2 separate regions of the Homo sapiens genome follow, and region 1 is linked to region 2. Evidence: fine-mapped expression QTL. A gene starts in region 2. The other region holds a variant in brackets. All regions are shown on one strand. Distances are from middle to middle.

The links.
Region 1: its variant is fine-mapped to the expression of EXOSC5 in lymphoblastoid cells (GTEx, PIP above 0.99).

What each region holds. Positions count from the first base shown.
Region 1 is chr19:41,923,331-41,928,804 of GRCh38, forward strand. It overlaps ERFL (ETS repressor factor like), which reads right to left and starts at 5,119. Exons shown (of 6, transcript NM_001365103.2): 1 at 4,710-5,119. It also overlaps a transcript of ARHGEF1 not described here. RefSeq lists a silencer at 5,065-5,244. The variant G/C (reference allele first, on the strand shown) is at 3,360.
Region 2 is chr19:41,394,600-41,399,829 of GRCh38, forward strand. EXOSC5 (exosome component 5) reads right to left here and starts at 2,760. Exons shown (of 6, transcript NM_020158.4): 1 at 2,582-2,760. The coding sequence starts at 2,729. BCKDHA (branched chain keto acid dehydrogenase E1 subunit alpha) reads left to right here and starts at 3,219. Exons shown (of 9, transcript NM_000709.4): 1 at 3,219-3,336. The coding sequence starts at 3,229. RefSeq lists a silencer at 2,683-2,971 and enhancers at 2,730-3,402, 2,968-3,247, 3,403-4,074.

The DNA.
Region 1 (5,474 bases), 530 kb after region 2:
CACAGAGTCCAGGATATGGAGAAACTGAGAGAGAGTCAGAGAGCTGTAAAGACCCTGTATGGAGAAAAACAGACACAGACAAAGACAACCAGAGAAATACAGAGAACAAAGAGAGACTGGGAGACAGACAGACAGAGACAAAAAGACAGGGTGAGACAGAGGAGTCGAGAGGCCAGAAACCAAGAGAGACAGAGAGACTCAGAATTAAGACAGGCAGACATGGACAGGGACAAGGAGACAGGGGCAGGTGGTGGCAAAGGTGGAAATGGAGAAAGGAAATGAAAGTGAGGGTGGGTGGAAAGGAAAGGCCAGCATGCAGGGAGGGGCGGTGTGGGAGGCAGGAGTGTGTCTGGGGAGGCAGGGGTGTGCTGGGAGGGGGCTGTGCTGGGGGGGTGTCTGGGGAGGCGGAGGTGTGCTGGGACGGGGCTGTGCTGGGGGTGTGTCTGGGGAGGTGGGGGTGGATCTGGGGAGGCGGGGGTGTGTTGGGAGGGAGCTGTGCTGGGGGGGTGTCTGGGGAGGCAGGGGTGTGCTGGGAGGGGGCTGTGCTGGGGGGTGGTAGGGGTGCGCTGGGAGGGGCTGTGCTGGGGGTGTGTGTGGGGAGGTAGGGGTATGCTGGGAGGGGGCTGTGCTGGGGGGAGGTAGGGGTGCGCTGGGAGGGGGCTGTGCTGGGGGTGTGTCTGGGGAGGTGGGGGTGCTCTGGGAGGGGGCTGTGCTGGCCCCAAACAGCTTGTGGGGGAGGTGGGGGTGAGCATGTGGAATGACAGCCTTAGCCCCAGGAGTCAATGAAGGGTGAGAAAGTGAGCCTGGAGAGTAGGGGAGATGGGGTTGGGAGGTAATGGAGAAGCAAGTGTCACCAAAGTCCCTAGGTGGATAGGTGTGTCTGTGGAGGGAGGAGGTCACCTGAGGGGCAGATGAGGGAGGTAAGGACACCTGGATGGCTAGGAGGGCAGTCTCTGAAGTCAGACAGCCTTGACTTGACTCAAATCTCTAACATCTACCTGTTTCTGGGACCTCAAAGAAACTCTCTGGACTCAGTTTCCTTCTCTGTAAAATGGGGACAAGAGGCAAGTACGTGCCTCATGAGGGTCCTGTGAGGACAAATGAGACAATGGGTGTGAAGAACTTGGTGTCTGTCACAGAGATGGATGGTGGTCTTAGTAATCGGGAGCTGTCATCACCATCACCCTCACCTTTATCCTCATTCTCGTTGTCGCCATCAGTATATATGGGGAGGGTAGGTGTTATGTGGTGGAACAGGTGGGGCACACATTACAAGCACCTGCTACTCAGAGAATGATACCTGGACCAGGTGTTTCTGATGCACATTGAAGTCAGATAACCTCGGACTTAAGATGCTGTGCAGTGCGGGGAGCAGGTGTGGGGGTGGCTGGGAACAGGCGACACATGTGTCTAACACATGCTACAGGTGTTATGCACGTGGAGGAAGGCGCTCCTCGAGGAGAGAGCTGGTCAGAGACACGTGCTAGGAAAGGGGACCGGTGTTTCTGGAGAGAAGCAGGTTGGAGACAGGTGTGAGAGATCTGAAGGTTTCTTCCTAAAGGTGTGGTGGTGACAAGCTGCAGGGACAGGTATCAAAAGTGAACATAGCAGAGAATGGGGCAGAGGTGTGCAGTGGGTTCCCAATGCTTGCAAAAGGTGCAAAGGGACTCCGGTCACATGGATGTTTGGGGGGAGGAAAAGGAGAGAGGTGGCTGGAGTGTGGGGAACCAGGTGCATGTCTGTGGGACAGGGCTGTTTTCAGGAGGTGACCCCTAGACCCAGCTGAAGAGATGTGAAGCAAAGAGAGATTAAGTGGGGGTATGCATAGTGGGTGTCGAAGCCTCGGTATCTGTTTGCTGATTAAATGATTTGAATGTGTTACCAGGGCAGAGGATTCCCTGGGATAAACAGGTGAGGAATGGCAGGTGCAGGGGGTTACTGGTGTGACCTTGTGCAGCAAGAGAGAGAGAGAAACATGGGAAATTAGGTATGTGGGAAAGAAGAGAAGTGGATAGAGAGTACCTGAGGGACAGGTGTGGGAAAACAGGTATACAGGTGACGCAGATACCTGTGGCCAAGGACAGACTCCTGCCCCAAACGTGTGTGTGTAAAGTAATGTTGTGTATAGTGAGAGACAGTGAGAGACCAGGAGAGGCAAAGACAGTGCAAGAAGGAGTGAGACACAGGTGAGCAAGTGTACAAGGGACCGGGAAACTCTGAGGGGACAAGAGCTTGGAGGAAGGCATAATGGCAGGGAAAGCCATGAGGAGGGTACTAGTGTGTGGATTGGTGATCAGGTGGTGCTTGGGGTTAGGACACAGGTGGGGAAGGTGCTTCTGTTGTCTGTGATGAGTAACCCGAAATGACAAGTAGGAAAGACAGGTACGGGGGAATCCTTGGAAGTCAGTGTACCTTGGAAGTCAGGTACAGGTAGAGAGGGATGTGAGCGACAGGTGTGCTCTTAGGTGACCTGTGTGTGGCCAGCTCTTCTGGAAGGGCAGGTGTTGGGGTGGTTAAGGAGGTGCAACACTGTCACGGAGGAGGATGGGTGAGGGCCAGGAGGCTGGGGACTGGTGGGGGCAGGCCTTACCTGAGGGGACAGGTTAGCAGGTTGCATGTGTGAGTGCTTGTGTGCAACAGAAGGAATGTGTGTGTGAGTGTGTGCATGTGTGGTGACTCGGTACTGCTTGAGAGGAGGAAGAGGTGAAGAAATACGAATGTGTGAGGAACAGGTGAGTTTGCAGCTTTAGGGGACAGGTGGGATGGCTCACGTACAGGTAGGAAGGGGCCAGTGTGACATGAAATGAGATAAAATGCAGGGATTCCAGTGGAAGGGGCAGATTTTAGAGAACAGGTATTACCTGGAGGGGCAGGTAAGAGGGGACGTATGCTCCCCGAGAGACCAGACATCTTAAGGGCAGGTGTGAGGGGGACAAGTGTTACCTGGAGGGGCAGGTGAGAGGAAATAGGTGTTACCTCCAGGGCAGATGAAGGGAACAGGTATGGAGGACAGGTGTTGCGTGCAGGCAGGTATGAGGAGATAGATGTTACCTGGAAGTCCAGATTTGGGGAGTTGAAGGGGGAACATGGATGTGACAGGTGCATTGATAGACAGGTGTGAAAGGTTAGTTACCTGAGGCCACAGGTGGGTGCAGTGTGACTCTGCCAGATGGTCTGCCACCTCGATTTCTCTCGCTCCCCTGTCCTCCCCTCCCTGGGGAGCCAGTTCTGGCTCTCGGGTCCCTCCCGTGGCTCTGGCCCTGGGTGGGGCACAGAGTTAGCTCTGGGCTAGGCGAGGCCTGGCCTGCTGGCCTGCCGGGCAGCCAGGGCCCCTGAGGCTGCTTGGCGATGCGGAGCGC[G/C]TCTGGGCCGCGGCGGCCGGCCGGGAGGGGGGAGCGGGCGGGGGGGCCGTTTAGCCGTGATAGATCCGCGCGCCGCTTGTCTCTTAATCTCCAGAGCGACCGATCGATTCGCTATTTCCCTTTGTTGCCAGAAAATTCGATCCTGGGCCTGGAATTAGGTCCCCGGCTTAATCTGAGCGGAAACCAGCGAGGGGGAGACAGAGACAGAGATGCTGGGAGAGACAGAGACAGAGAGACAGTAAGAGACAGAAAGAGGCAGAGAGAGAGAGATAGAAAGAGATGCCGAGAAAGGAAGAGAGAGAGATAGATGCCGAGAAAGGAAGAGACACAGGGAGAGATAAGCACAGAGATTTAGAGAGAGATAGTCTTAAGAGTTGGACCCAAAAAGGAAGAGAGAGATGCTGTGAGAGACAGAGATAGAGAGACAGATCCTGGGAGAGTTAGAGGTGGACACAGAGATGCTGTGAGAGACAGAGACAGAGAGACAGTGAGGAGAGACCCAGCCAGGGGAGAGATAACAGAAGTGGCCCAGCAGGGCCCTGCGACAGTGGTGGAATGATAGAAAGGGTGTCCCAGAGGGCCCCGGCCCCACGAAGGTCAGGGCCAGGCCTGTACTCCTTGCCCCGAAGTGTGCAGACCCCAGAATTGGCCCAAATGTCCTTCCCACAGACCCTGTGACCCCTCATACCAAATATCCAGACCCCAGATATCCAGATCCAAATTCGCAGACCCTTAGCTTTGAACTCCAACTCCAAATCCAGACTTCTGGCCCCCTCAAGTCCAAACTCCTATGCTGATCCCCAGTCCCAGATATCCACACCCCCAGTCCTGACTCCCAGCCCCAGTCAGCTCCCAACCTCAGATATCTAGATCTTCCGCCCCAAGTGTCCAGTCTCTTGGCTTTGAGCCCCTAGGTCCCAAATATGCAAGCCCTCAGCCCTGACCTCTAAACCCCACTCAGAATCTAGCCCCAAATATCCAGACTCCTCAGCCCCAAACATCCAAATCCACCTTCAGGTCGGCCACCAACCCCCGTTCCCAGATTTTCAGTCCAGTCTCTTGCAGACCCCATCTCCGTGGCTCTCACTCGCTCTCCCTCCCCGCCCCCAAATCTCGCACCCCTGTCCCGAGGCCGCACCTCTAGCGCTACCCGCCTCCCACCTTCCCAGAGTTGGGCGCTGCCCCACCTGCCCCTTACAGCCGGGGCGGATGACCCCATCCGCCTACCCCTCCACCGGCTCGGAGGCCCAGCTTCTCAGGCCTCCCGGGACCACCCCCGCGCCCGCCCCCTCCTGGGGCGGGAATCCCCGCCCCCTCCCCGCCCCTGCGCCGGCCGCGGCGCTCACTCACTTTCTGGGCTTTTCGCATCCGCTCCGGTCCGGGGAGAAGTGTTTAAAGTTCGGATCCCGCAGCCATGGCCCCCGCGGCGTCCTGGGGAGGGGGCACCGGGGCGAGGGGCGGGGTGGGGGGAGATGCCCGGAGCCCCGGGGAGGCAGAGACCCAGAGGACGAGGAGAGGGAGTCTCTGAGACGCCGGGACAGGAGAGACTCAGAGACGGAGAGACAGCCAAGGAGACAGAGACGGGGAGACGAGCAGAGACGGGGAGATGCAGAGAGGGAGAGAGACAGCGAGATAGACGCGCAAAGAGAGCAGAGACGGGGAGAGCTGAGGACGGAGCTCCGGGCTGGAGCTCAGCACAGCGAGCGCGGGCGGGCGCGCGCCGGGGACAGCCTGGCCGGCTGGGGGCGCGGGGCGGCCCTGCCTCCTGCGCCTTCTCCTCTTCCTCCTCTTCCTCCTGCTCCTCCTCCTCCTCGTTCTCCTCCTCCTCCCTCCACTCCTCTGCGCGCCGCGCGCCTCCCGCCCTCGCGGCCGCCCGGCCGGGCTCGGCTCGCAGATATATGGAGGCGGCGGCGGCGGCGCGGGGGAGGGGGCGGGGGCGCGATCGATGGAATATAATTTTCCTCAAACTCGGAAAATAAAGTTCAGAGCTGATCAAATTTGAAAACAGATGTCGAATCGCGACTCTAAATAAGGTTCGATCCCGGGACTGAGGGAGTGGGGGTGGGGCGGGGGTGGGTGGAGAGGTGGAGAGACCCCCCTCCTCTCCCCTTCCCT
Region 2 (5,230 bases):
CTCCGCCTCCCAGGCTCAAGTGATTCTTGTACCTCAACCTCCAGAGTAGCTGAGATTACAGGTGCGTGCTACCACATCCGACTAATTTTTGTATTTTTAGTAGAGATGGGTTTTCACCATGTTGGCCAATCTGGTCTCAGAACTCCTGACCTCAACCAAGCGAGGTGGCTCACGCCTGTAATCCCAGCACTGTGGGAGGCTGAGGCAGGTGGATCACAGGGTCAGGAGTTCAAGATCAGCCTGGCCAACATGGTGAAACCCCGTCTCTACTAAAAACCACAAAAATTAGCCGGGCGCGGTGGCACGCACCTGTGGTCCCAGCTACTCAGGAGGCTGAGGCAGAAGAATTGCTTGAACCCGGGAGGTGGAGGGTGCAGTGAGCCACGATCACTTCACTGCACTCCAGCCTGGGCGACAGGGCGAGACTCCATCTCAAAAAAAAAAAAAGAAAAAAAAAAAAAGAACTCCTGACCTCAGAGGCCTCCCAAAGTGCTGGGATTACCGCTGTGAGCAACTGCACCCGGCCTCTTCTTAATTCTTACGTTCGAAGAAACTTTAGGTATCTCAATTCAGCATAAGCGCTAAGCCTGAGGGAGGGCCTGGGAAGGTCCTTGGTTAAGGCCGTATTTCCTGGGAAGCCCAATTTGCCCTTACACGGAAGGTATGCTTAGTTCCAGGAGAAACTGCCCTGAGGACTGGAGAAGTTACCAAAACAGAACTTGCCTCTGGCTCCAGATGAACTGCCTGTGTTTTGCCCGAGCACAAGAGTCTCTCCCCTCTCACCTTCTTGAAGACGTGGCTCCAGCAATTCTCTCCCCTGTTGACCCCACAACAATCTACAACTCCTGCCCCACTTATCTGATCCTCTTACAGCAGAACTCCTGAACAGCTGCCTCTTCTTCCTTTTCTGTGACCCCACCACTCCATTGCGGCAGCTCAACATCGTCACCACTGACCTCCAAATGATCAACCCTCCCATGACCCGGCTGTCAGTAAGGCTGAAACAGCTGGTCAGCCCTCACATCTCAGACATGCTCTTTTCTTGGCCCCAGGTCACCACCATCTCCTGGTTTCCCCCTAACTCTCTGGGCGTTCCTTCTGAGTCTCCTTTGCTAGCTTGTCACATGTCTCTGACTGCTCAAGTTGGAAGGCCTAGGGCTTGGTCCTGGGACCTCTTCTCTTTTCCATCTACACTCACTTCGTTCAGGCAATAGCCTGAAATACCATCTATATAGCCAGAGAGTTCCAAATTGCCTATGTCCAGCTTGGGTCTCTCTTCTGATTTCCAGACTTGTACAGATCTGGGCAGAAACCTTAGTTATGCCTGAATCTTTTTCCTCGCACTCAAACCAAACTATACGTAAGTTTTGTCCGTATTACTTTCAAACTACATCCAGAATCTCATCACCTCCACTACTCCTGCTCTGGCTGGAGCCACCATCACCTCCCTGTTTTCCCCCATACTCCCCACAATCAACACAGCAGCCAAATTTTGTTAAAATGTATTGGGGCTGGGCGTGGTGGCTCATACCTGTATGAGCACTTTGGGAGGAGGATTGCTTGAGCCCAGGAGTTCAAGACCAACCTGGGTGACATCGTGAGACGCTGTCTCAATTTTTTTTTTTTTTGAGACAGAGTCTTGCTTTGTCGCTCACGCTGGAGTACAATGGCACGATCTCGGCCCACTGCAACTTCTGCCTCCCAGGTTCAAGTGATTGTCCTGCCTCAGCCTCCCGAGTAGCTGGGATTACAGGCGCCCGCCACCATGCCTGGCTAGTTTTTGTATTTTTAGTAGAGACAGGGTTTCGCCATGTTGGCCAGGCTGGTCTCGAACTCCTGACCTCAGGTGAGCCACAGGTCTTGGCCTCCCAAAGTGTGGGGATTACAGGCGTGAGCCACCGCCCCCGGCCTCCCGTCTCAAACGTTAAAGAGAAATATTCTTGGAGTTAATCTACTTCTGAGAGTTATTTAGCTAGGAAAAGGGGATATTTGCTCTATAGGTAAGACTTGCCCTAATCTTTTTTTTTTTTTTTTTTTTGACTTGCCCTAATCTTAGGGATATTTACTTGTGTGGAGAGATGCAGTGAGGTAGCGGTGGGGATGTATTTCTCAACCCAGCGCAATGACATTATCTTCAATTTGAGGAGTATTTACGTGGGTGAAAGATCCGCCACAGTCCACAGTATGCAAATAGACAGGTTTGCTTCAGTCCGGGATGCAAGGACCTAGAGGGTGTGTGTGTGGGGGGTGGGGGTGGGAGGGTGGAGGAGGAATCGAGTTAAGGGGGATATTTACCCTGGCGAGGTGATTTTCCCTATTCTGAAATATCAATTCTTGGGCGGACAGTCTGCCCCTCCTCTCATTCTCAGAGATAGTTACAAAGATGGAACTATCTTCTCCTTTCTAGTCGTGAGGGAGAGATGTGTGTATCCCTGCGTATTTAGTAGTATTCAATCGGACAAGAAATCATGCATCAACGCAGGAGTGACATTTACCAGCTGGTATCGTGAGGAGGTGGGCACTCGGTTGCACAGTACACGGTAGTCCCTCTCCAAAAGAAAGACCTGGGTGAAGTTCTTACCTTGCAGGAAGGAAGCAGAGCCATCTGGCCGCGACAGCAGGTTCTGTTCGCAGGCAAAGTGCCGGAGGCTGCAGCCAGGACCCCGAGGGCTGGACCCTGTTCCATTTTCAGCACGGATTTTGGCGTCAGTATGCGTCTCCTCCTCCATCGCGCCGAGCCCACGTGCGGCTGCAGTTGTCACTTCCGCCTGGCAGCGCGCGCCGCAAACAGGCTGCGTAACCAGTGCGCACGCGCCGGGCTGGGCCATCCTCCTGGGCGTCCGCACGTGGCTTAGCGTTTACCAACAATCTGGCTCCGCCCAGTCCCACCTCCTAACTCTGGCAACGCCATTGGACATTTGGGAACAGAAGGCAGGCCTTGGCATTGATCCGCTTTACTCTGGGCCCCCGGGCCCTAAATCCCTGAGGCCCTGGTCAGGTTGCCCTCTTCTTTGCCTGTTACAGGAGTAACTACAATGAGGCGATTGGAGAAAATTTTGGGTAGATAGATTTTTTTTTCTCCAAATCTCTGTGCATTCTATCTACCACAGAACGGGAAGAAGATGGTTTTCTTGTCAGATGGTGCTGGAGTTTGCGTCAGGCACATAAAGAGGCAGCCCCGAATCTAGCCTACGTGAGTGCCGGACCGCTGAGTGGTTGTTAGCCAAGATGGCGGTAGCGATCGCTGCAGCGAGGGTCTGGCGGCTAAACCGTGGTTTGAGCCAGGCTGCCCTCCTGCTGCTGCGGCAGCCTGGGGCTCGGGGACTGGCTAGATCTGTGAGTACCTGGGCCCCAGGCGGTTTTCCCAAAGGGGATTAGGGATGTAAAGGCTATCTTCAGAGTGTGGGGTCCCTGAAGGATATGAAGGAAGGGCTGTCACAAAAGGGAAAAAGAGTGGGAGACTCCTTGGAGAAGACACCGAAGGGAAGATCTGCCACTTCCTTAGGAGACGAAAAGAACTTCCACTTCTTTAGGAGAGGAAAAAACCCGTTTGCAACTTCTTTGTGGGCCCTGAGGGAGACGACTTGAAGAGAGAGATGGGGGTTCCTTATTAGCTGCCACTGGTATTCAGGGGAGGCTCCTTGGAGGAACAGGGGAAGACCGCAAGACCTTCTCCCTCAGGGTTTGGAGAATGAAACTGACTTTGTAAGGGAGGGACTTTCTTCTGGGCAAAGATCCCTCTTCAAGAAGAAGAAAGAAGAGAACAGGTCCCTGTCACAGGCTGCATAGGGCCTTGTATTTCTTTGCTCCTTTGCCACAATTCTGATTTTAAAATGAATTGTGTAAAAAATTTGTTTGATTCCTGTGTCTCTTGATCGAATATCAAGACAGAGAATTCGTGTGTTCTGGACACTGTACAGAGGAGACGATTAATATTTGTTGAATTAATGAGGGGAAAAAAGGAGGGAGAGAGGTACAGACAGGGCACTTTGCCCACATTTCTTAGAAACACTTGAGAAGGCTTTGTTTCTTGTCAAAAGGGTCACAATCCCTTCAGGTGGATGCTGCTAAGGGCAAGATTACACTGCAAAAAACCTAGGTGGAAGCCTATCTTTAGACGGGGAGAGGCAATGGGTTGCAGAAGAGCTTTGAACTACAGTTGACAGATAGGAGAGTAGTGGTTACATGGGTGGATGCATGTCCTTGCTCTGCCGCTTTCCACTTGTGTAGCCTTGGCCAACGGACTGCACTTCTCTGGATCTATGGAGCTAATTTTCCTCTCTAAAATATTAACAGTGGCCACCTCATAGGGCTGTGAAAAATCAATATGTAAAATGCTAAGGACTGGACCTGGCACATCCTAAGGGCAATAGGAATGTTGATAGTGAGGGTGGAGGGAAGGGACAGAAACTAACCTTGGAGATGGGGAGAAGAAAGGGGTGACCTTGGGAAGGCCTGGATTGGTGAGGCCCTGGGGAAAAAAATCTGAAAAGATATTGTGAGGTTGAGTCTGATCCTCTGATCCCCAATCCATAAGGAGGGGAAGATGGAATCTGTAGAAAGAAGCTCTGGGTAGGGGAACAAACGGGAGGAGGGTGAAGAAGATGGGCCAGGAGTAGGACGTAGTAGGTATCTAGGAACGGAGTCACTTGAAACAGGTAAATACAGAAGGGCTGCAGGAGCAAGGTGTGGGTAGGGCAGTCTCTTGCCTTTGGGCTGGAGACCTTTTCACTTTTTTTTTTTTTTTTTTTTTTGAGCAGTTCATATCCTCCACAGCTGATCTCAGTCCCAGGGGCCCATTGGCTGGGCAAGTGGGGCAGGAGGTGGGCAGGACTGGGGCAGGCTAGGGAAAGGTCATTTATGGCTGATTAAATCTTTCTCTCCTGTCTCAATCTCTTGATTACCTTTCCTCTTGCTTCCCCTACTTCATTTTTGGTGGGGAGTGGGGAGGGAAGAAGTCCCTACTTTTTATTTATATATATTTAAATTTGTATTATCTTAAGAGTTATTGTTTTTTCCCCTTTATTTCTCCCACCTGTTCTTTCTCTCTTCTTCTTTCTTTCCTCTCCTTCTCCTCTCCTCTCCTCCCCTCTCCTTTTTCTTTTCTTTTCTTTTTCCCTTTCCTTTCCTTTCCTTTTCTCTTCTCTTTTCTCTCTCTCTTTCTTTCTGTACCTCTCTTTCCTTTTTCTTTTTTTTTCTTTTTTGAGACAGAGTTTCACTCTCTCGCCTA